7 linked regions of the Homo sapiens genome follow. The protein of the gene in region 6 purifies or fractionates together with the protein of the main gene of each other region. This does not show direct contact. Each region holds a gene or a part of one and is shown on either strand. Other genes may lie near its edges.

The links.
Region 1: the proteins of RSBN1 (region 6) and DHX37 purify together in Homo sapiens (affinity purification with mass spectrometry; one large-scale study listed by BioGRID and IntAct). This does not show direct contact.
Region 2: the proteins of RSBN1 (region 6) and EEPD1 purify together in Homo sapiens (affinity purification with mass spectrometry; 2 studies listed by BioGRID and IntAct, with this or other methods). This does not show direct contact.
Region 3: the proteins of RSBN1 (region 6) and CEBPZ purify together in Homo sapiens (affinity purification with mass spectrometry; 2 studies listed by BioGRID and IntAct, with this or other methods). This does not show direct contact.
Region 4: the proteins of RSBN1 (region 6) and ZNF512 purify together in Homo sapiens (affinity purification with mass spectrometry; 2 studies listed by BioGRID and IntAct, with this or other methods). This does not show direct contact.
Region 5: the proteins of RSBN1 (region 6) and ZNF317 purify together in Homo sapiens (affinity purification with mass spectrometry; 2 studies listed by BioGRID and IntAct, with this or other methods). This does not show direct contact.
Region 7: the proteins of RSBN1 (region 6) and SETD1A purify together in Homo sapiens (affinity purification with mass spectrometry; 2 studies listed by BioGRID and IntAct, with this or other methods). This does not show direct contact.

The regions. Positions count from the first base shown.
Region 1 is NC_000012.12:124,979,132-124,982,631, forward strand, and holds part of DHX37 (probable ATP-dependent RNA helicase DHX37), read right to left. Parts: intron 3,493-3,500; coding exon 3,380-3,492; intron 1,708-3,379; coding exon 1,359-1,707; intron 1-1,358. UniProt on the Homo sapiens protein: ATP-binding RNA helicase that plays a role in maturation of the small ribosomal subunit in ribosome biogenesis. Required for the release of the U3 snoRNP from pre-ribosomal particles.
Region 2 is NC_000007.14:36,278,754-36,282,253, reverse strand, and holds part of EEPD1 (endonuclease/exonuclease/phosphatase family domain-containing protein 1), read right to left. Parts: intron 1,140-3,500; coding exon 1,029-1,139; intron 1-1,028.
Region 3 is NC_000002.12:37,207,597-37,211,096, forward strand, and holds part of CEBPZ (CCAAT/enhancer-binding protein zeta), read right to left. Parts: exon of another isoform or gene 3,487-3,500; coding exon 3,403-3,486; exon of another isoform or gene 1-3,402. UniProt on the Homo sapiens protein: Stimulates transcription from the HSP70 promoter.
Region 4 is NC_000002.12:27,593,042-27,596,541, reverse strand, and holds part of ZNF512 (zinc finger protein 512), read right to left. Parts: intron 1-3,500. UniProt on the Homo sapiens protein: May be involved in transcriptional regulation.
Region 5 is NC_000019.10:9,157,397-9,160,654, reverse strand, and holds part of ZNF317 (zinc finger protein 317), read right to left. Parts: intron 2,822-3,258; exon of another isoform or gene 2,676-2,821; coding exon 2,580-2,675; intron 1,830-2,579; coding exon 1,747-1,829; intron 542-1,746; coding exon 1-541. UniProt on the Homo sapiens protein: May function as a transcription factor. May play an important role in erythroid maturation and lymphoid proliferation.
Region 6 is NC_000001.11:113,795,477-113,798,976, forward strand, and holds part of RSBN1 (lysine-specific demethylase 9), read right to left. Parts: intron 2,561-3,500; coding exon 1,887-2,560; intron 828-1,886; coding exon of another isoform or gene 825-827; exon of another isoform or gene 1-824. UniProt on the Homo sapiens protein: Histone demethylase that specifically demethylates dimethylated 'Lys-20' of histone H4 (H4K20me2), thereby modulating chromosome architecture.
Region 7 is NC_000016.10:30,960,754-30,964,253, reverse strand, and holds part of SETD1A (histone-lysine N-methyltransferase SETD1A), read right to left. Parts: intron 2,988-3,500; coding exon 2,717-2,987; intron 822-2,716; coding exon 700-821; intron 161-699; coding exon 1-160. UniProt on the Homo sapiens protein: Histone methyltransferase that catalyzes methyl group transfer from S-adenosyl-L-methionine to the epsilon-amino group of 'Lys-4' of histone H3 (H3K4) via a non-processive mechanism.

The sequences.
Region 1 (3,500 bases), on a different chromosome or scaffold from region 6:
CTGAGTTTGGGAGTTGCCTGAGCTTGGGAGTTCAAGACCAGCCTGGGCAACATGGCAAAACCCCGTCTCTACAAAAAAAATACAAAGTTAGCCAAGCGTAGTAGCGTGTGCCCACAGTCCCAGGCTCTTTGGGAGGGTGAGGCAGGAGGGTCACTTGAGCCTCGGAGGCGGAGGTTGCAGTCAGCTGAGATCAAACCTCTGCACTTTAGCCTGGGTGACAGAGTGAGACCCTGTTTCAAACGAACAAACAACAAAAACAGCAGTGAAGATAACAGCAAAAAGCTAAAACAACCAACTATCCAGCAACAGAATACTCATCCTGCGCTATATTCACACCGTGAATACTCGATAGCAGTGGGGAAAAAGTAAATGAGCCTCAGCTGCCTGCATCAACATGGATGTATCCCAAGATATAATGCTGAGTAACAAAAAAGCAAACTGGAATAACGTAAAGGACATGATGCCACTTTTAAATACAGGCAAACCTACGGTATGTATTGCTTAGGAATATGGACAGGATACGAATAGGGAAAAATTCACAAAGAAAAGCAGGAACTGAAGTCCCAAGGGATGGCAGGGACACGGGATGGAGGAGGCCAAGCCCCTGAGTGACCGCGCGGAGCAGAACCCCACACCCTCCTTGCCACCAGATGGCACTGGGTGATGACATCACCTAGAAGCAAACGTTTGTGGTGTGAAGCCACTGGCACTTTGGGGTCATTTGCTAGAGCGGTCAGCTTACCCTGATGAAGACTTATAAAAGCAGAAAAATGTACTTAGAAGCAGGATCCCAATTCCATTCAACGGCCAACATTACTCCTCTAGGGATCCAGAGTTCCTACGTGGGCTGTGGGCTTTCCATGCCCCAAATCCTTTCATTGTCATCACAACCCAGTGAGACACTCATTGTACCAGGAAGGAAACAGGCACAGAGAGGGGGAGCCCCTTCAGTAGCCGGAATATTCCCATTTTACAGATGCGCGGGAAGTGAGCTGGAGAGCAGGGGAATCAGCACTTGATTTCGGGTCAACTGATTCACAGCCCAAACTCTTGTCTGGATCGGGGCAGCCCAGGCCAGGCCCGCTGGTCAGAGGGCAGTGGCGATGAAGCTACTGCCGCCGACCTCCAGGGCCCCGAGCCTGCCAGGCGTGCCGCCAGACACCCGCCCTGCACTGTGATCCTCCTCGCGCACCAATCCCTGCCACAGCCTCAAGGGAGGCGCAGTCACTCTCCCCTTTCCCAGATGGGGACATGGAGGCACAGAGAAGGGATGCCCTTGCCCCACTTCACCAGGACGCCCTCTGTGCGCCCCTTGCCCGCTAACCTAGATTCTTAATCACAAACACGGGGTGGCGAACCTGCATTTCCGGGGAGCGGTTCACGGGGATGAAGACGGCGGGCTTAGCCAGGGCCCTGGGCAGTGGTGGGGCTGCAGCTGGAGGAGGAGGAACAGTCATCCCAGCCGGCACGGGCTGACTGCTGGGTGCTGGAGCTGGCGGCAGAGGTGCCACGGTGGTCCCCACACCAGCCTCAGCCGGCTCAGCAGCTGGGTCCTCGTCCAGCTCCGACTCCTCCTCCAGCTCCGATTCCGACTCCTCCTCCTCCTCCTCCTCCTCCTCAGCTGAGGGCCAGCGGCGACGCTTCCGGTGGGCACCGCTGAGGCTACTGATCTTCTCCTGGCCCGGGGCTACCACCTCGTCAGCCTTCCTGTTGAGATAGCAGAGACTTCAGGCACAGAGGCCCCACCTCAATCCCAGAGGTCAGGACTCCAAGGCCATACCCCTTTCTGCCTCAGGGACTTTGCACCTGCTGTTCCACTCCCTGAAATGCCCTTCCTGCAGATACCTCCTCTCACTCCACTTAAGCCTCTGCTTAAGCACTAGCTGTCAGGGAGACTCCCTGACCACACACAGACCCCACATCTCACCCTTCTCCCTCCACCTCGCTCTTCCCTGCTTCATTTTCTGCTCAGTGCTTCCCAGCGTGGGACACAGATGCACTCGCCTGATGACTTCCCACGATTACATCTCCCGCCATGACACTGGGAAGCTCCTTAAGAGAAAGGACTTTATTTCTGTGCACTGCTCTATCCCCAGGGCCTAGCAGAGAGCCTGGGACAGTCTCTGCACTCGATAAACAGTCACTAACTGACAGTGCTCACAGGCACCAGTCAGGCCTCATGTAAATGAGCAGCACAGGCTGAGGAGACCACAGAGTGGGGTGGGACTGGGTGGGAGGGGCACACAGGCCATTTAAGGGTCAGCAGCTTGGTGGGGACACTGCTGGTGTGGCCGGATCGTCCAACTAGTCGAGACTAGGTGGGAACATGAATTCACCTTGTCGCCCAGGACGGAGTGCAGTGGTGCAATCACGGCTCACTGTAGCTTCAACCTCCCAGGCTCAGGTGATCCTCCCACCTCAGCCGCCAGAGTAGCTGAGACCACAGGCATGAGCCACCATGCCCAGCTAATTTTTGTATTTTTAGTGGAGACAGGGTTTCACCATGTTGGCCATGCTAGTCTCAAACTCCTGACCTCAGGTGATCCACCCGCCTCGGCCTCCCAAAGTGCTAGGATTACAGGTATGAGCCACGGCACCCTTCTGGCTTGGTTGTTCTAAGCCACCGCTGTTTGCAGTAATTTGTTATGGCAGCGCCAGGAAGCTAACATATTGGCAAACAGCACTCATGCCTTAAAAAACGACACAAACCAGTCGGGCGCGGTGGCTCACGCCTGTAATCCCAGCACTTTGGGAGGCCGAGGCGGGCAGATCACCCAAGGTTGGGAGTTCGAGACCAGCCTGACCAACATGGAGAAACCCCGTCTCTACTAAAAATACAAAATTAGCCGGGCTTGGTGGTGCATGCCTGTAATCCCAGCTACTTGGGAGGCTGAGGCAGGAGAATCGCTTGAACCTGGGAGGTGGAGGTTGCGGTAAGCTGAGATCACGCCATTGCACTCCAGCCTGGGTGACAAAGCAAGACTCTGTCTCAAAAAAAAAAAACAAAAAAAAACACGACACAAACCAAACCAAACCCGCTGATGGGCCAAATCCAGCCCTTGACCACCTAATGGCAATTTCTGGCCTAATCAGCTGCACAAAAGCTGGAAGAGCTGTAACAAGGGACTCTACACCACAGGAAAACACCGACATCACTGGAGCGAGAAACTTTGCTGTCCTGTGTGTCGCAGAAGGTTCAGCAGCATCTGTGGCCTTTACCCACTAGAGGCATTTAGGATGACAATGAATTTTCAGCCACTCAGGCCACCATAAAGGTATTTTCTCAAATGTTCCACCCCCAGAGGACCCCATAACCTGTGCGCCCTCCCTAGGGGGCCCTGGAGGGAGGGCAGGGTTAGCAAAGGACTGGCCAACTCACTCTTTGGTGTGATACATGCGGTTCCCAGTGCCTAGCTTGGAAGTGGTATAAAAGAGTCTCATCTCAGCTTCGGAAGCCTGGACTTCACTCAGCTTCTGTAGCATCTCTGCTCGCTGGGAAA
Region 2 (3,500 bases), on a different chromosome or scaffold from region 6:
GTAAAGTGCGATCAAAAAAGGAAGGTGGTATTATTCTTATTATTTCCACGTGGACTGGAAGGGAGAACCCTGAACTAGATGCATTCAAATTCAGCTTTATCTCCAGCCTTCTCTGAATGTGTGCTGACTCACTGTCAGCTGCAGGAGCCATTTACACCCCCAAACATAAAACCCAGAGACAGAAGATTTACATGTACCTCTTTAAGTAGTAGCTAAAAAGAGAGTAGGGGCTTACTGTCAAAAAATGGCCACTTTTAATCCAGTATACATTTATGATTTAAGAGCCTACATTATAAACATAATCATATTAAGTATAAATCACATGTGTTTGTAAGCATGTTAGGTATACTAGGGATTTAAAAATCTGCATTTATAGGAAAATTATGTAATAATACATTTTCAACTCCTGGTTATTATCAGGAGTCTGTTTAAAAATCTAAAACTCCATTGATGTTAAGCATTGCAAGGTGAATAAATCTGGCCTTGAATAATAATATGAGGGAAAACGTGTATTTACAGAGATTTACCCTTACCTGCTCATATGGGTGATACTGATGAAAGAAAATTCAAAACCAAAATCTGCTGAACATTTCAATAGAACATTTCTATGTTGAAATTATGTGCATAATTTCTACCACTAGAAGCAAATACTTCATGTGTGAACTAAGGTGAATCTGAAATTTTCAGTCAACGAGTAATGAGCTCTGCACAAACTTGGCAGAAGACAGAACTGTGGCGAAGGGATTAGAAGGACAAAGGACAGAAATACCCATTTGTTGCCTTTCTCCCCTCCTCTCCTCCCAACACCCTAAGCTCTCATTTCCTTCTTGGCAGGAGTCCATTCCCAATCTAAACGTGAACCGAAAACCAGGGCATTTGGAAATGAATGGCAAGGATTTAAAAATTGGGCAGAAATACAAAATTGAACCGGGGATATTGGCAAAGGAAATTTTTAAATGCCCTTGATTAGGGGAAAAGTATGTATAAATTAAATGAAGGGAAAGGCCAGGCTTTGCAGACGAGGGTACCTTCTGGAGCTGACTCGAGGGCTTCTCAGCAACAACAGCCTTCCAGCATCCCCGGGGCCCCTTCCACTTGCGGATGTTGGGCAGGGTCGGCTGGTTTAGCTCCGTGCAGAACTGCAAAGACAGAGCACAGGTCAGAAGCGTGGGTTCGCGCCTAAAGCAGTCCCGGCTGGCGGCGGCCTGAGAAGCCAGGCACTGCATGATTCTGAGTCATCAGCCTTATTCAGACACTGCTGAACTACATCCCTGTTTTTCAAACACTAGGGTTTGCAAGAGCCAGATGACTAAACAAGCACCACACATTAAAAAGAAAACTGCCTGTGTGTGAAACACCAAATTATCACCTGGGGACTCTCAGTTCACAGAAATTGATTCTCTCTGTAGCATTCCTGCCCAAACAGTTCAAAAAAAGTCATCAGAATCCTTTTCATCCTTGTAAAAGCAGCGGATTGAAGGTCCCAGGAGGATCTGGATCAGCGTCAAATCCAAAAAGGTAACAAGATGGATACATGGTGACTTTCTTCTTCAGGGCTCAGCTTACAGGGGCAAAAAATGACCTCCAGCTTCAACTTGAACCACCGTAGTGCTTGTCTTGTTTACCTCTTGCTGCGGAGAGCTGCTGCTGCACCCACACACGTGCACGCGGCATGCACTTCTTTTGCTAATGCATGTTGCACCAATATGGCTGTAAAGTGACTGTCACTGAGGCAAAATAAAATTGCACACAGTAGGATGAGGAGTGGAACAACTATCCACTTCAAAATATGGAGACCAGCTCCTCTAACTCATGCCTCAAACACAACCCCTTCTCTTGGGGTCATGCCCCCTTGTCCTTCACAAGCCTTGGAGCACTCCACTTGTTTATTTCTCTAACCACCCCTACGAGTGAGAGCCTCTTGGCTTCCAAGCACATCACCACTCTCTCCGCTTAAGGACTCTCATTCAGCCCCACTGAGGCAGCTTACACCCCTATCCAGAAGACCCCAGCATCTGTACCCGTCGCCAGCTGCTCTCCTGAGTTTTAAAAGCATTTCCCACTGCCTCCTTAGCATCTCCACCTGGAGGTCTCCTTAGCCCCTCACAGCAGCAGGTCCCAAAGGGAACACATTATTCCTTCCTCCACCCAGTGCCCATCTTGGTCCAAAGCACTTCCATCCTTCCCGCTGCTCGAACTCCTTCCTCGCCTCCCACCAGCGCACTGATTCCACTGTCGCATGTGTCTTGGGTGCTTCCTTTCTGTTCTCCAGCCCCACTGCTGGAGCCTGTTTCAGAGTCCTGTCTTCTCTCACGGGGGTCACTGGCATAGCTTCTAAGAAGTCCGTCACTGGACCCACCCTGCAGCTATTCACTAAGTTCACTGTCATGGCCATGCTGATGCACCTCTCTGCGGTCCTCAAAGTGTGGTCTAGGGACCAGTAGCCACAGAATCACCTGAGAACGTGCTAGAAATCCTAGACCTACTGGATCAGCAGCTCTGAAGTGGGCCCAGCAATCTGTGCCTGAACAAACCCACTGGAAGATTCTGATGCACGCTTGGGTTTGAGAGCTGCTGTGGCCGCCCAGGTCCTCCCTCAGCCTCTGCCCCAGATCCTGGCGGTGTGTGAGCAGCCACCCTCTCAGCAGAGCCTCCCAACGCCTCTGCTGCAGAAAGCCACTCTCATGCCCCCTGGGCAGCCCACATACAATGGTTGGGAGAGGCCAGGGTCTAAAGGTCTGGTCTTTCCCCTCACATTGCTTTATTTGTAAGAGGGAAGATGAAGCACCAGTACTTCATTACTGAGTACTGAGCTAGTCATTTCTAGAGGGACAAGCGCTGTGGGGAAGATGAAACCAGGCAAGGGGAGGGAGAGTGCTGGGAGGTCTACTTTAGAAATGGGCTATTCTAGGAGTGACGCTGCTTTTACAGTTAGTCATGTAAGCATCTATCTTTCTCCAGCAGTGGACTCCACAGGGCAGGGACTGTACCTGAGCCTCCTTTATAAACCCCTACCTGGCACAGAGCACAGCACCCAGTGATGCTCTGAAACATCTGCTGGTGAAGCAGAAAACTCAAGGCAAGACTGCAGTCTTCAAATCTGTGCATGACAGCATGACAAACAAAGCAGGGGCAGGGAAGGGGGTCGGGGATGCGGGGGAGTCGGGGTGGTGGGAATTTCTCCTTAGGCTATTATCCAAGTAGTTGCCTCCATTGTAACCTGACTCTTTGCATACAGATATGTTCTCTGCTGCTGAGTTTGTCTGGGAAGCATTCTCTCTGGAATTTGCTCAACCATGACTTTTATAGGTTCTACTTTCAACACAGCCCAGAGCAGAGTGGCTGTGGAGAGAGTCACTGCTGACAGGGGCGAGGGAGTGGGGAAGGCGGAGAGGGTGGGGTTTTACCCTGGATAAGTCCCCCTGGCCAGATGCTCCTGGCTGGAAGCCATCCTCAGATGGGAAATAAAACACTTTGGAAGATGCAGCCAGAATTTATCG
Region 3 (3,500 bases), on a different chromosome or scaffold from region 6:
TGAACTGAACAATAGTGACACAACCCATCAAAACCTCTGGGATACAGCAAAAGCGGCACTACATTTAGTAAGTTCACAGCATTAAATGTCTACATCAAAAAGTCTGAAAGAGCATAAACAGACAATCTAAGCTCACACCTCAAGGAACTAGAGAAACAAGAACAAATCAAACTCAAACCCAGCAGAAGAAAAGAAATAACAAATATCAGAGCAGAACTAAATAAAACTGAAGCAAACACTACAAAAGATAAATGAAACAAAAAGCTGGTTCTGTGGAAAAATAAAGAAAATCGGTAGACCATTAGCAAGATTAACCAAAAAAAGAAGAGAGAAGATCTGAATAAGCTCAATTAGAGACGAAATGGGAGATACTACAACCGATACCACAGAAATACAAAAGATCATTCAAGGCTACTATGAACACCTTTATGCACAAAAACTAGAAAACCTAGAGAAAAATGGATAAATTCCTGGAAATATACAACCCTTCTAGATTAAACCAGAAAGAAATGGAAACTCTGAACAGACCAATAACAAGTAGCACGACTGAAACAGTAATAAAAAAACTGCCAACAAAACAAAGTCCAGGACCAGATGGATTCACAGCTGAATTCTATCAGACATTCAAAGAACTGGTACCAATCCTACTGAAACTATTCCAAAAGATAGGGAAAGAGGGAATCCTCCCTAAATCATTCAATGAAGCCAATATCGCCCTAATTCCAAAATCAGGAAATGACATAACAAAAGAAAACTAGAGACCAATATTCCTCATGCACACAGATGCAAAAACCCTCAACAAAATACTAGCTAACCAACTCCAACAGCATATCAAAAAGATAATACACCATGATCAAGTGGGTTTCTTGCCAGGGATATAGGGCTGGTTTAACATACGCAAGTCAATAAATATGATATACCACATAAACAATTAAAAACAAAAATCATATGATCATCTCAATAGACGCAGAAAAAGCATTTGACAAAATCAAGCATCCTTTATGATTTAAACCCTCAGCAAAACTGGCATACAAGGGACGTACCTTAAAAGTAATGAAAGCCATCTATGATAAACCCATAGCCAACATTATACTGAACAGGGAAAAGTTGAAAGCATTCCCCCTGAGAACTGGAACAAGACAAGGATGCCCACTTTCACCACTTCTATTCAACATAGTACTGGAAATCCTAGCCAGTGCAACTGGACAAGAGAAAGAAAGGGCATTCAAATCAGTAAAGAGGAAGTCAAACTGTCACTATTCACCGATGATATGATAGCATACCTAGAAAACCCTAAAGACTCATCCAAAAAGATCCTAGATCTGATAAATAAATCCAGCAAAGTTTCAGGATACAAAATCAATGTGCGCAAACCAGTAGCATTGCTATACACCAACAGCAACCAAGCTGAGAATCAAATCAATTACTCTACCCCCCTTACAACACCTGCCAAAAAAAAAAAAAATAATAATACTTAGGAATACACCTAATCAAGGAGGTGAAAGATCTCTAAAAGGAAAACTACAAAACACTGCTGAAAGAAACCACAGACACACACAAATGGAAACGCATCCCATGTTCATGGATGGGTAGAATCGATATTGTGAAAATGACCATACTGCCAAAAGCAATCTATAAATTTAATGTAATTCCCATCAAAATGCCATCATCATTCTTCACAGAACTAGGAAAAAAAATCCTGAAATTCATATGGAACAAAATAAGAGCCTGCATAGCCAAGCAAGACTAAACAAAAAGAACAAATCTAGAGGCATCTCATTACCTGACTTCAAACTATACTACTAGGCTATTGTTACCAAAATAGCATGGTACTTGTACAAAAACAGGCACGTAGACCAATGGAACAGAATAGAGAACCCAGAAATAAAGCCAAATACTTACAACCATCTGATCTTTGACAAAGTAAACAAAAACAAAGTGGGGAAAGGACACCCTATTGAACCATTGGTGCTGGGATAACTGGCAAGCCACATGTAGGAGAATTAAACTGGATCCTCATTTCTCACCTTATGCAGAAAACTCAAGATGGATCGAAGACTTAAAGATAAGACCTGAAACTGTAAAAATTCTAGAATATAACATTGGAAAAACTCTTCTAGACATTGGCTTAAGTAGAGTTCATGACCAAGAACCTAAATGCAAATGCAACAAAAACAAATAGATGGGACTTAATTAAGCTAAAAAGCGTCTGCATAGCAAAATAAATAATCAGCAGAGTAAATAGACAACCCATAGAGTGGGAGAAAATCTTCGTAAACTATGCATCTGAGAAAGGACTAATGTCCAGAATCTATAAGGAACTCAAAAAAGTCAGCAAGAAAAAAACAATCCCATCAAAAAGTGTGTTAAGGATATGAACAGACAATTCTCAAAAGATATACAAATGGTCAAGAAACATATGAAGAAATGCTCAACATCCCTGATTATCAGGGAAATGCAAATCAAAGCCACAGTGCAATACCACCTTACTCCTGCAAGAATGGCCGTAATTTAAAAATAAAAAAAATTTCAGATGTTGGCATGGATGTGGTAATAAGGGAACACTTCTACATTGCTGGTGGGAATGTAAACTAGTACAACCACTATGGTAAACAGTATGGAGAGTCCTTAAAGAACTGAAAGTAGAACTATCATTTGATCTAGCAATCCCACCACTGGGTACTACCCAGAGGAAAATAAGTCATTATATAAAAAAGACAAACACACAGATTTATAGTAGCACAATCTGCAATTGCAAAAATATGGAACCAACCTAAATGCCCATCAACTAATGAGTGGATAAAGAAAATGTGGTATACATATACCATGGAATGCTACTCATCCATAAAAAGGAGAGAAATAATGGCATTCGCAGCAACCTGAATACAGCTGGAGACCATTATTCTAAGCGAAGTAATTCAGGAATGGAAAACCAAACATTCTATGTTCTCAGTTATAAATGGGAGCTAAGCAATGAGGATGCAAAGGCTTAAGAATGATATAATGGACTCTGGGGACTTGGGGGGAAGAGTGGGAGGCAGTGGGGGATAAGAGTACACATTGGGTGCAGTGTACTGCTTGAGTGATGGGTGCACCAAAATCTCAGAAATCACTACTAAAGAACTTACCTATGTAACCAAACACCCTACCTGTTCCCCAAAAACAACTGAAATAATGATAACAAATTTTTAAAAAGTGAATGAAAAGATGATCCAGAGATATCTGAATGCGAGAAACAATTCAAAATGTGGAAAATAATTTCCACTTAACATCTTTCTTAAAAAGAACCCCCCCCACCCCTGAATTTTATTAATCAAATTTAGGAGAGTTCATTTCCCAAAATGATAATGACACCTTTCACATGGACACTGCTTTTAAAAGATATTAAATGTATTTTCTTACCTTGAAATGAGCCAGCAAAGTCAAAATCATCTGTACCTTTTCTCTTGCTTTTCTTAGTACTGACTTTGGAGTGGACTTCAAGTTCTGTTACACGAAAA
Region 4 (3,500 bases), on a different chromosome or scaffold from region 6:
ATGAACCCCACTTGCAGAGCAGCATAGGCAGCTTTAATTCTAGAAACTCCCTTCTTTCTTACCAGGTAAATCAGGAAAAAAGGTCCCTGTGGACCAGAGTTGGGGGACTGGGGGTGGGAGGAATGCTAGAGAGAAAACAGGCAAAAAAAAGAATCTCTTAATTCAATGTATGAATCCAAATAAGTCACAACTTAACCTTAGCCATGAATGTGTGGCATATACCCATACGTACCAGCCTAGCAAAGACTTTGAAAACCAAAATGAGATTTGAACTCTAATGTGACCCAAACCAAAGCAGCAAAAGCTTGGAGAACTGAAATAAGATTGGAAACACCTGCAGAAGTCTCAGACCAGCCCCTAAGCTATTCATGTTTGGGACAGCTCAAATCAACATAGCAAAGACATAAAGAACAGAACCGAGATTTTAACAAATGCCTCCAAAAGCAAGACAGAAGTTTTGGCCTGAACCTGAAGCAGGGTGGCCTGCTAAAACAGAAACGGCAACATTCCCCAGAAGAATTATAATAGGACCCAAAATCTACACAAAAAGTATTCACAATGATGAGGATAAATTCCAAAATTATGCAACACATAAAGAACCAGGAAAATGTGAGCAATTTTCAAAGGAACAAATGACCAAAACATGCCAGCCACAAGGTGATCCAGATTTTGGGACTATCAAATACTGTCAACAAAAAAGAAATACTTTCTTATAAAGAAAACACACAAGAAATGAAGGAAAAGGTGGGAATCATCAGCAGAAAAAGAAACCATAAAAAAGAACCAAATGAAATCTTAGAACTGAAAAATACAACATCTGAAATAAAAACTCATCAGATAGGTTCAGTAATAGAATGGAGATGACAGAGGAAAGAGTCTGTGAACTTGAAGACCGTTCAATAGAAATGACCCAGTCTCCACCGGGCACAGTGGCTCACGCCTGTAATCCAGCACTTTGGGAGGCCGAGGCAGGCGGATCACAAGGTCAGGAGTTCGAGACCAGCCTGATCAGCATAGTGAAACCCCGTCTCTACTAAAAATACAAAAGAATTAGCCAGGCCTGGTGGTGGGTGCCTGTAATCTCAGCTACTCGGCAGGCTGAGGCAGGAGAATCGCTTGAACCTGGGAGGCGGAGGCTGCAATGAGCAGAGATCGCGCCGCTGCAGTGAGCAGAGATCGCACCACTGCACTCCAGCCTGGGCGACAGTGCGAGACTCCATCTCAAAAAAAAAAAAAAAGAAAAGAAAAGAAAAAAAACCAGTCTGAAGAACAAAGAGAAAAAAAGATTGAAAAACATTCAACAAAACCCTAATACCAAACGTTTTAACTTAAGTGTAGTTGTAATCCCAGAGGGAGAGGCGAAAGATACTAATGCAGCTCTCGCTCTCCCTCTCCCCGCTCTCCTCCCTCTCCCTTCTTCGGTCTCCCTCTGTTGCCAAGGCTGGACCATACTGCCGTGATCTCACCTAGCTACAACCTCCCTACCTCGGGCTCCCCTGATTCTCCTGCCTGGGCCTGCCCAATGCCTGGGATTGCAGGCACGCGCCGCCACGCCTGACTGGTTTTTGTATTTTTGGTGGAGACGGGGTTTCGCCGTGTTGACCAGGCTGGTCTCCAGCTCCTGACCTCGAGTGATCTGCTCGCCTCCGCCTCCCGAGGTGCTGGGATTGCAGACGGAGTCTTGCTCACTCAATGCTCAATGTTGCCCAGGCTGGAGTGCAGTGGCGTGATCTCGGCTCGCTACAACCTCCACCTCCCAGCCGCCTGCCTTGGCCTCCCAAAGTGCTAAGACTACAGCCTCTGCCCGGCCGCCACCCCATCTAGGAAGTGAGGAGCGTCTCTGCCTGGCTGCCCATCATCTGGGATGGGAGGAGACCCTCTGCCCGGCCGCCCCGTCTGGGAAGTGAGGAGCGCCTCTGCCCGGCCGCCACCCCGTCTAGGAAGTGAGGAGCGTCTCTGCCTGGCCGCCCATCATCTGGGATGTGACCAGCGCCTCTGCCCGGCCGCCCTGTCTGGGAAGTGAGGAGCGCCTCTGCCCGGCCGCCCTGTCTGGGAGGTGAGGAGCACCTCTGCCCGGCCGCCACCCCGTCTGGGAGGTGAGGAGCGTCTCTGCCCAGCCGCCACCCCGTCTGGGAGGTGAGGAGCGTCTCTGCCCGGCCGCCACCCCTTCTGGGAGGTGAGGAGCGCCTCCGCCCGGCCGCCACCCCGTTTAGGAGGTGAGGAGCGCCTCTGCCCGGCTGCCACCCCGTCTGCGAACTGAGGAGTGCCTCTGCCCGGCCACCACCCCGTCTGGGATGTGAGGAGCGCCTCTGCCCGGCCGCCCTGTCCGGGAGGTGAGGAGTGCCTCTGCCTGGCCGCCCCATCTGGGATGTGAGGAGCGCCTCTGCCCGGCCGCCACCCTGTCTGGGAAGTGAGGAGCACCTCTGACTGGCCGCTGTGCAATCTTCCAAGTGTGAAGTGACAGCCTTTCTGCAGGTGTACCCAACAGCTCCGAAGAGACAGTGACCATTGAGAATGGGCCATGATGATGATGGCGGTTTTGTCGAAAAGAAAAGGGGGAAATGTGGAGAAAAGAAAGAGAGATCAGATTGTTACTGTGTCTGTGTAGAAAGAAGTAGACATAGGAGACTCCATTTTGTTCTGTACTAAGAAAAATTCTTCTGCCTTGGGATGCTGTTGATCTATAACCTTACCCCCAACCCTGTGCTCTCTGAAACATGTGCTGTGTCAACTCAGGGTTAAATGGAAAAAAAAAAAAAGAAAGAAAGAAAGATACTAAGGCAGAAAAATACATTTGAAAAAAAAAAGGTGGAAAATCCCCCACGTTTGGTCAGATATAAATTTACAGATTCAAGGAGCTCAACAAACACCAAATAGGATAACTCAAAGAAAAACATACCAAGATACATCTTTTTGTTTTGTTTTGAAACACAGTCTTGTTCTGTTCTCCAGGCCAGAGTGCAGTGGCACATGGCTCACTGCAGCTTGGACCTCTCTGGCTCAAGTGATCCTCTCACCTCACCATACCCGAGTAGCTGGAACCACAGGTGCACACCATCATACCCACTAAATTTTTGTGTTTTTTCATAGAGACAGGGTCTTGCTATGTTGCCCAGGCTGGTCCAAAGCACTTTTTTTTTTTTTTTTTTTGAGACAAGGTCTCACTCTGTCACTCAGGCTGGAGTGTAGTGGCTCAAGCACAGCCTCCACCTCCCAGGCTTAAACAATCCTCCCACCTCAGCCTCCTGAGTAGCTGAGACCACAAGTGTGTGCCACGGTACCCAGCTCATTCTTTTGTGTGTGTGTGTGTGTGTGTGTGTGTGTGTGTGTGTGTGTGTGTGTGTGTAGAGACAGGGTCTCACTTTGTTGTCCAGGCTGGTATCAAACTCCTGGGCTCAAGCAATCTTCCTACCTCAGCCTCCCAAACTGCTGGGATTACAGGCATGAGCCACGGTACCCAACCAAGACACATCTTAACGAAACTATTCAGCCAGGAAGGG
Region 5 (3,258 bases), on a different chromosome or scaffold from region 6:
GACACTCGTAGGGCCTCTCTCCGGTGTGCGTTCTCTTGTGTGCGATGAGGTGGCAGCTCCGGCCGTAAGCCTTCCCGCACTGATCACACTTGTAAGGCCTCTCGCCAGTGTGAACTCGCATGTGGATTTTCAGGGCCGAGAGGGTCCGGAATGCATTTCCACACTGACTGCAGTCAAAGGGCTTCTCTTTGAGGTGAGTTCTTGCGTGGCTCCTAAGGGCTGAAGGGTCGTTGAAGGCTTTCCCGCAGTCGCTGCACTCGTAAGGCTTCTCCCCGGTGTGGATTCTCCTGTGCCGTGTGAGGGACGCGCTCGTGGTGAAGGCTTTTTGGCACTGATGACATTCATGCATTTTTCTCCCGTCGTACATGCTCATGTGCTGAGTGAGGTGCGGCCTGCCCTTGAACGCTACCCCATAGTCGCGGCGGTGATAGGGCCTCTTGCCAGCGTGCCTTCCCATTGGCTGAGTGAGATGAGGGTCCATGCCAAAGACTTCGAACAAGTGAGCGTATTCAGTGGACTTCTCTCCAAGACCGGCTCTTTCCTGTTGGTTAAGACGTAAGTGCTGACAAAGGCAATTCTCATATTCATTGCAACCCTAAGCGTCATCCCCACATACACTGCTATGAACAGATAGAAGCACATTACTATGACTAGAGCTGTAACCATCTGCCGTGCAAACGTGCTGTCCCTGCCCCATTTGAGCTCCATCAAGGACAATAGGTGAATGCCAGGCCACAAGGCTCCACATGTGTTACTTTTTCAAAGCTTTTTGCATATAGCATTTCTTCACTGCTTAAAACTGAATTGAGGCTGGGCAAGGTGGCTCACGCCTGTCATCCCAGCACTCTGGAAGGCCAAGGCGGGTGGACCACCTGAGGTCAGGAGTTCGAGACCAGCCTGGCTAACATGGTGAAACGCTGTCTCTACTAAAAATACAAAAATTAGCTGGGCATGGTGGTGCACACCTGTAATCCCAGCTACTCGGGAGGGTGGGACAGGAGAATCACTTGAGCCTGAAAGGTGGAGGCTGCAGTGAGCTGAGATCGTGCCATTGCACTCCAGCCTGGGTGACAAGAGCAAGACTGTGCCTCAAAAAAAAAAACAAAAAACAAAAACAACAACAAAAACAAACAAACAAAAACCACTGAATTGAGGCTGGGCATGGTGGCTCAAGCCTATAATCCCAGCACTTTGGGAGACCGAGGCTGATGGATCTCCAGGAGTTCAAGACCAGCCTGGGCAACATGGTGAAATCCTGTCTCTGCAAAAAATAGAAAAATCAGCCAAGTGTGGTGGCACACGCCTATAGTCCCAGCTGCTCAGGAGGCTGAGGTGGGAGGATGGCTTGAGCCTGGGAGGCAGAGGTTGCAGTGAGCCAAGATGTTGCCCACTGCACTGGGCAACAAGAGCAAGACTGTCTGCCCCCCAAAAAATAAACACCACCAAAACTAAATTGATAAGTAAGTGTACAGCATAAATATAAAATAAAACAAAAACTGCATTGAGCCCCAACACTCAATATCTGAGACACAGCTATAAAAATCTTCACTCAGAGACACTCTAGGTAAAGTAGCTTGAGGTTAGCTTTAGGGTTGTCTCCATCTTGGTAATACCCAGTGTCTCTGAAACACAGTCTCCTCTGAGGGAAGCTGCTTGCCCTGGTGTTGAACTGCTTTTCTAACCTAGGCTGCCCCAGTCTCCTCAGACGTGGAAGGAAGATCCAGAATTATCCCACGGAAATCTTACCATCGTCACACCACTGGGCGTTTCCTTCCCAAAAATATCTTCCATAAGAAGTGACCACTTGGTTTTAGATGGAGTCTCCCAATCTGAAACAAATTGGAAAAGTATTAATTGTTGGAAAAGGAAAATGGTGGGATGATGGTGACAATGACAGGTGGATTTCTTGGCAGATCCTAAGGCTATGTAAGGAAAAGTGGTGCAAAAGCAATTGTTAAAAAATCTGGTCATGTGAGATATTTGGCAATGCCAGGGGTAGAAATTTAAGTCAATTCAGGCCTGGTGCAGTGGCTCACGCCTGTAATCCCAGCACTCTGGGAGGCCGAGGTGGGTGGATCACCTGAGGTCAGGTGTTCGAGACCAGCCTGGACAACATGGTGAAACCCATGTCTACTAATAATACTAAAATTAGGTAGGCATGGCGGCATCATGCCTGTAGTCCCAGCTACTTGGGAGGCAGAGGTTGCAGTGAGCCGAGATCATGCCACTGCACTCCAGCCTGGCAACAGAGTGAGACTCCGTCAAAAAAAAAAAAAAAAAAAAAAAAAAAAGAAAAAAGAAATTTAAGGCAATTCAGATGATGTTGATAATGACAGAAAGCGGATGATCAGAAACATCAAATATGAAAGAATGGGACAAAGAGCCCAATAATGGGAATGTGAAAGTCAAAGATGAAGGAGTGTGTGGACCAAAAGATTTGTCAGAGAATGGATGGGCAAAAAGAGGGAAGGAGCATCTCTCAATTTCCCTGGGTGACACTCCCTAACCTACCTCCCTCCACCCCAGTCACTGAATAGAGGTAGAGTCACAGCACCGCTCTTTGCCTGGGGCTCGCTCACCTGCACAAGCGCCCTGGTGAGCGCCCCTCTCCTCTGTCCTCGGCTCCTCCTCCTGCTCCAAGTGTGAGATGAGGCTGGGTTTGCCGACCTGATACCCTACACTCACGGGAAAGACACAGGTTGAGGGAGGGCCATGCAGAGGACAACCCCTTCCAGTAGCCTGGGCTCAACACTTGGGTCTTCAGTGTTCTGAGGGTGGACAAGTCTGACTTAGGAGCAGCAAAATGGTGGTGCCAAAATTTCTAAGGAACACAGTAAAAGTTTTTGACTGATAGAAAACAAAACCACAGGCAAAGCATGGTGGCTCGTGCCTGTAGCCAGGAGTTCAAGATCAGTCTGGGCAACATAGTGAGAACCCTTCATCACCAAAAATAAAAAAAAAAAAAAAAAAAAAGAAATAGGAAATAAGATCACAAGTACCCACACACTGACCCTCCAAAAGAATGGGGATTTCGTATTTCAGAAGCCCATGCCAAGCTCAGACACACACCGGAGAACCACCATGGTCCCTGCAATAGATGGGCCTCGATACCCAGGAGAGGCCCCATTAAGCATGGGTGCTGGGGCTGCTTGTTCACAGCTGCGTTCTGAACCGCTGCATAGTTCCTGGGTCACAGAACATACTCAAACAAAAACATCTAATTCATGGATGAATAAGTGGAGAAATGGCACTGGCCTT
Region 6 (3,500 bases):
TAGTCGGCTAATCCAACCTCCCATATCCACACCATACTCTTCTCTAATGACTGAAAATTCATAAATAAAATTAAGTTCCAGGACCACCAGAGCACAGGACTCATTCAACAGTCCTCAATATTCTTATGTGGTTGAAGCGTTTAATATCTAATTTAATCATAATCTGAAATGTTCTTAAAAAGTGGTTATTTTTTAAATCTCAAAGTAAGTATCAAGGTAAGTTGTTGGTACAGTCATTTAAATTTCAGCTCCATTTTAAAAAATTAATTGGAGGACAAAAATCAGCAGGGAATATTTCAAGATATTTTCTTTTATTAACTATTTAGACTGGATACTGTCTGTTGACATACAAATTTGATCCACTTTAACTAATATGAATGTTAAAAAGACACCCTTACAAAACTGGGACAGTTTTCCCCCAAATTTCTGGCTTATTTCTCAGAAATGCTTGTTGGTCTATCAAAAGAGAAAATTTGCTGCATTTTTCTAAACTAAAAAAATGATAGAGCATGTTGATTCTGCTCTCAGCAATATCTTTCCTTGTTAAATAGGGAACTTATGGGGATTATGGACTATATTAGGAGAAATGTTTTCAGTCTCATCTGCAATATTTATAAAAATAGGATTCCTTGACCTTCAAAGGGCAAAACTTAAAAAAAAAATGAAAATGAAAAAAGAAAATCTACTACAAAAGTCAGCACTTCGGTACCTGGTTGTGGTAATAAGGCCAAAATCCAAGACGAAGCCCTTTATTGCACATGGTGTTCCAACATCTTGGGCAGCCCCATCTTGCGACCTCTCCACATTGGCTGCTCCTGCTCTCTCTACTGCAGAGAGAACTTCAATTAGAGAAATTCTGAAGCTCATAAATCTAAACTGGATACTCCCCTCATTGGAGGCAAAGATGGTAAGACTCACTAAAAAGATTCAAGTTAGAGGAGGTTTCAAATAAATCTAAGTGGCTTGAAACCACTATAATTCAGGCAGCTGAGAGTCTTATTACGGCAACAATCTATTTACCTAAAAAAATATATATATATTAAGGGAAAAGAATGGCAGCAAATTACTAGACAACCTGAAAAAACAGAACATATAATCATAAAAGTTTAAAAAGTGAAAGTCTCCACTAAAGTTGAATTTATAATATATACTGCAGAAACTTATAGCTGACCATTTATATTCAATTCTTACGAGAAAAGCAAGTAAGAAAAAAACTAGGACACATTATTAACTTCTTATTCCCTAAAATAACTTCACTGAAAAAAATGTTTGGTTAAAACCACTGGTTAAGAAGCAGACGTTTCCCTGCTGACTTAAGCCTAGCTGCCCATGCAAGGCTTCAAAAAATGTCTTCACCTACAACAATGTATAGGCAGAAGGAGCAGAGGCTATGGCGGTCTTCCTAATGACACTTCCAAGTCACATAAATGGGGTATATTTCTGGGATGGACTGCCAACAAGTTACTGAAAGAGATATAAAAACTCCAAAAACCTGGCATATAAACAGGCCCATGCCCTCACGTGTTTTATTATGATATAAAAGCAAATCTTAACTAAAGTTATCCTGAGACTAACAGATCTCAATCACATCCTCCATACTAACATTACCCGATTTGTGAAAGACCAGGTAAGTTTTCAAGCTAGTTTTCCATAAAGATTTGTAATGATGTATAACATGTATAAAGCATTCCCTCCAGTAAAGAAGAAGCCCCACCCGAACTCAGTAATTAAGATTTTTCAATTAGAGGAAGAGACAAACAATTTGAAGCACCTTTATTACCATAAATTTGTTATCAAAAATGTGCTGGTATGTGCTGTGCGACAGAAAGAGGTTAATTCTGTTTAGAATCGTATTTACTAATTTTTAACAACAATTTTTATCTTACCTGAGTGTGAAAATTTGAAATGGTGGTTGTTTCAATATCTTTCTTGCCCAGAATTTCCATTTTCACTGGAGTGTTGGGGAAATTAAAAGCAAAGTAGTCCAAGAAGTCTGGGAGATAAGCAGCCGCTCCATGCACTATTGCTAAAGCATAGTAAGCAGCATTTTTCTCATTTTCACTGAATGTCAAAGCAAGAAACTCCTCAGAAAATCTCTCCATCTCCATTGGAGACAAAAATGAGAGTTCATCCATGTAAGCATGAAGGACAAGAGCACCACCATTGGACTGGTGTTCCTCATGAATAAAGTTGCTAAATTTAGTACCTGTTTTTAAGAAATTTCTACGAATAGAATGTTCCTGGTGAGTCATAAAAGGTGTTTGTACTCCCTGGGGTACCCGATATTCTTGCATACCCAAATTTAATCGGCACAGCTGTTCATCTTTCAGATACCTGAAGGACTCCTTATTAAGTCCTGAAGTGCTATTTATTTGTCCTTGGGTGAGAATTTCTTTACTGATGCGGGTCAGGCCAGCACAGACGGTTTGTACTTCCTTATTGTACATTTTAAGGCGTCTTCCTCGCATGTCTTCTCGGTGTTTCTTTTTCTTTTTCTTCTTTATTTTCTTCAAGACAAAATCATCGGCTCTCTGGGTTTTACCATTTTCATCTGGTGTTTCTGGCCACAATAATTAAAAAGAAGTTAGTTGCTAGGACTAGTGTCAACATACAAGCTTCTTAAGGTACTTGATCTCATTAAATAGCCTATCCTCAATTTCTCTGAATTTGCTATTACAACTTACGTGTTTAGAAAACAAATGAGACAGAGATCTTAAATATAATAATATTCTGGATTGAAGAAAAGAATAAAATTGAAGGTATCCATTTTTCAAAGCAGTATATTACTGATAATGGAGAAAAATCAGAAATAATTCACACATCCAAAAAACAGAGAATGGTTAAATAAATCATGATATAGCAATGGTATGAAACATTATACGATAGCTAAATATGATGATTCTGAAATCTATGTAACAACATAGATTCTTTTGTTCAGTTATCATCATAAAATTTAAATTTAAGCTAGGCATATTTTGCTGTCAGCCTATGAATTACTATGATACATACAGGTAAATCAACAAAGGCAAAGTAAGCCATGAGATATCATTTTTTCCTATCAAGTTGGCAAAGTCTGCGGTTTCTGGTCATTCTCAACTACTACTGCTGGAAGTATAAACTGGTACAACTTTCTGAAGGGCAATTTCATGATACATGTTAAAAGTCTTAAAAAATATTTCTAATCCTCAGACCCAGAAATTCCACTTCCAAGTAAAAGTTATCTAAGAAAATAATTGAAGATTATATAAAGATATCCATTACAGTATTATTTAAAACGACACAACAGGGAATGCTCCTAAATGTCTAATAACAGGGGACTGATTAAACTCTGGTAGTTACATATTATAAAACACTACTCAGCCATTGTAAAGTATATTATAGATGAAAAAACTGACATAAAAATTAGAAGGTTACAAAATGCTTAGACTCATTCTTTCAGAAAGCCTTTTCTTCCCCACCCAATCTGGATAGCTACTCCTGCTATGGGCTCCCTTAAGCTT
Region 7 (3,500 bases), on a different chromosome or scaffold from region 6:
ACTGAGGTGTGAACTGGCCAAAGGAAGATGGGGTATCTTGTCGGCTGCTGGAGAAGCTTGTGTCCTGGGAGCAGGGGGTGCCGTTGCCAGGAGTGCCCACCGCAGTGGTGCCTGCTGGGTAGGCAGCTGTGTCAGAGGAAGAGCGGCGGCGGGATTCGGCCTAGAGCGACAGAGCAGGGCAAGGAGAGAGGAATGGGCTCAAACACCACTTGAGACCTGCCCTTTCCCAAACCAGGAATCCTAGTTCCCTTTTTTTTTTTTTGAGACGGAGTCTCGCTCTATTGCCCAGGCTGGAGTCCAGTGGCGTGATCTCGGCTCACTGCAAGCTCCGCCTCCCGGGTTCATGCCATTCTCCTGCCTCAGCCTCCCAAGTAGCTAGGACTACAGGCGCCCACCACCATGCCTGGCTAATTTTTTGCAGTTTTAGTAGAGATGGGGTTTCACCGTGTTAGTCAGGATGGTTTCAATCACCTGACCTCATGATCCACCCGCCTCGGCCTCCCAAAGTGCTGGGATTACAGGCGTGAGCCACTGTGCCTGGCCCCTAGTTCCCTGTCTTTTGAAAGCATCTCAGCAGCTTTGCTTGGCTCTTCTTTGTTTAACGGGAAAGCCCGGAACCTCCCGAAGACTGCTCCTGCTCCGGGCACCCGGACACCATGCCCACATGGCTAGGGGCTGTGGTAGCCACAAACTTCTCACCGTCTCAGTGGCTGCACCCGAGCCTTGGAACTTCTCACTCAGGGCCTTGCCCCCAGTGGGCACAGTCTGAGGGGTGTAGGAGCCATTGACAATTAGTTCATAGTATTTCATTCGTTGTTGTCCTGGAGGGAGGGAAATGGGAACCAATTGTCAGATGGAGATACTAACTCCTTCCTGATCTGGTATTCCTGCTTTCTCAGGCCTCAAGTTTCCTACAATTTCTTGGAATCTGGGTTTCAGGATTTCAGTTCTCCTACCATAACTCTACCTTTGGGACCTTCTACCTTATCTCTACCTCTAAACTACCACAAACAACATATTTTATGACACTTCACGATTTATCAAAAACACTTCTACTTATTTTACCATGTTGGATCACCAGAAGGGAAGCATCAGTACCTCTGTTCTAGAGGCTTAAAAGCGACCTACACAAAGTCACAGAATTGGTCATTGGAAAAATTGGAATTCAAACCCAGAGGCTCGATCACCCCATGCTCTTTATCCTGTAAACTAAAGCATGCAGAACAGCAACCGGGGGACTAACGGAGCCTGCAGGAGCTGTGGAGTGAACACCTCAGAAACACCTTGTGAGGAAAGAAACATGGTATTTAAAAACCATGAGATTTCACACAAAAACCCAAATTTCTGGCTTGAGTGCAGTGGCACGATGTAATCTCCACCTCCCAGGTTCAAGTGATTCTCATGCCTCAGCCTCTCGAGTAGCTGGGATTATAAGCATGAACCACCACGTCCGGATTTTTGTTATTTTTAATAGAAATGGGGTTTCACCATGTTGACCAGGCTGGTCTCGAGCTCCTGTCCTCAGGTGATCTGCCCACCTTGGCCTCTCAGAGTCTTGGGATTACAGGCGTGAGCCACCGCATGCCCGGCCCTGGCTTTCTTTTACAAACCAAATTCAAGAATGTTAAACCTCATTTCCACTTGCAAACTGGCCAGTGCCTACTAATGGCTGCCTCCTCCAGACAATACTGCAATCTGCAGCTCGCCACAGACCCCACTGCTCCCCATCACTCAACACAGAAGCCCAGACCACCTCGCTTGTGTTCACAGCTCCTTTACTCTCTATCTCAAATTTCCAAACCTAAAAACCCAGAAAATCCAGTATTTCTGAGAATCTGGCACCAAAACCTATATGGGTTATAGAATAGCATATAGAAAGATTAAAAAGAGGCCAGGCATGGTGGCTCATGCCTGTAATACCAGTACTTTGGGAGGCCGAGGCAGGCAGATCACTTGAGGTCAGGAGTTCAAGACCAGCCTGGCTAACAGGGTGAAACCCTATCTCTACTAAAAATACAAAAATTAGCCGGGCGTAGTGGCGCATAAATGTAATCCTAGCTACTCAAGAGGCTGAGGCAGAAGAATCACTTGAACCTGGGAGGTGGAGGTTGCAGTGAGCCAAGATCGTGCCACTGCACTCCAGCCTGGGCGACAGATTGAGATTCCATCTCAAAAAAAAAAAAAAAAAATTAAAAACAGGCTGGGCAGTGTAGTGAGACTTCATCTCTGCAAATAATCAAAAAAACTTTGGCCAGGTGTGGTGGTGCATGCCCATAATCCCAGCTACTCAGGAGGCTGGGGTGGCTGAGCCCAGGAGCTGGAGGCTGCAGTGAGGAAAGATCACGCCACTGCTCTCCAGCCTAGGTGACAGAGCAGGATCCTGTCTCAAAAACCAACCAAGCAACCAACCTGACCTGGGCTGATTTACTACAATCTATTCATCTTACCTAGTACAACCCTTCATATGATTTTTTTTTTTTTTTACAGATAGTTATGTGCTTGATTATGGCCTATTGCCCGACCTTGCTGGAGACACCACACACACAAAAATCCATGTACCATAATTCCACTCTAAAATCTGATCTGATTTCAGAAACACAACTGGCCCCAGCAGTTTCAGATCATGACCCTGGGCGCCTGCCTGACCCTGACAGGCATTTGCATGTACAACCTCCGCTGGAGGCCAAGCCTGAGTGGCAGGCAGAGGAGTCCTCACCTTTGATGTCAAGCTGGGCATGGATGATGTTGCCCATGACGGAGGTAAGGTGGAGGTTTTTGACCGTTTCCTTGGCGCCCCGAGTGCTGGTGAAGAGCACACGGGCCAGGCCCAGGTGCTTGCGCGTACGGGGGTGAAGGAGGATCTCTACCTCTTCCACCTCACCGTACTTACGGCACATATCCTTCAGGAAGGTCTCCCGCACGTTGTCATTCAGCCTTGCAAAAGTCACTTCCTTCAGTGGAATCTGTCCAATATAGAACTCGTCCAGCTGGGGAAAGAACAGGAGTTGGTATGGGGTCTCAACACTGACCACTGTTCCTTTGTCCTTCGGGAAACTTTAGCAAGCTCCATGAAGTCAAGAGAGAGATCCGGGAAAGTGAGGGGCAAGGGAAGGGGCCCAAAATAAGGGATCCATCAGACCTGACCCCTTTTCCCTGAATTCTTCTCACCACAGAATAACAGCAAGAATTAAGAACAGAAATGTGCAAACTAGGCCGGGTGTGGCAGCTCACACTTATAATCCCAACACTTTGGGAGGATGAGGTGGACGGATCACCAGAAGTCAGGAGTTCAAGACCAGCCTGTCCAACATGATAAAACCCTGTCTCTACTAAAAATACAAAAAAAAAAATTTAGCTGGATGTGATGGTGGGCACCTGTAATCCCAGCTACTCAGGAGGGTGAGGCAGGAGAATCACTTGAACCTGGCAGGCAGAGGTTGCACTAAGCCGAGATCACACCACTGCACTCCAGCCTGGGCAACACAGCGAGACTCCGTCTC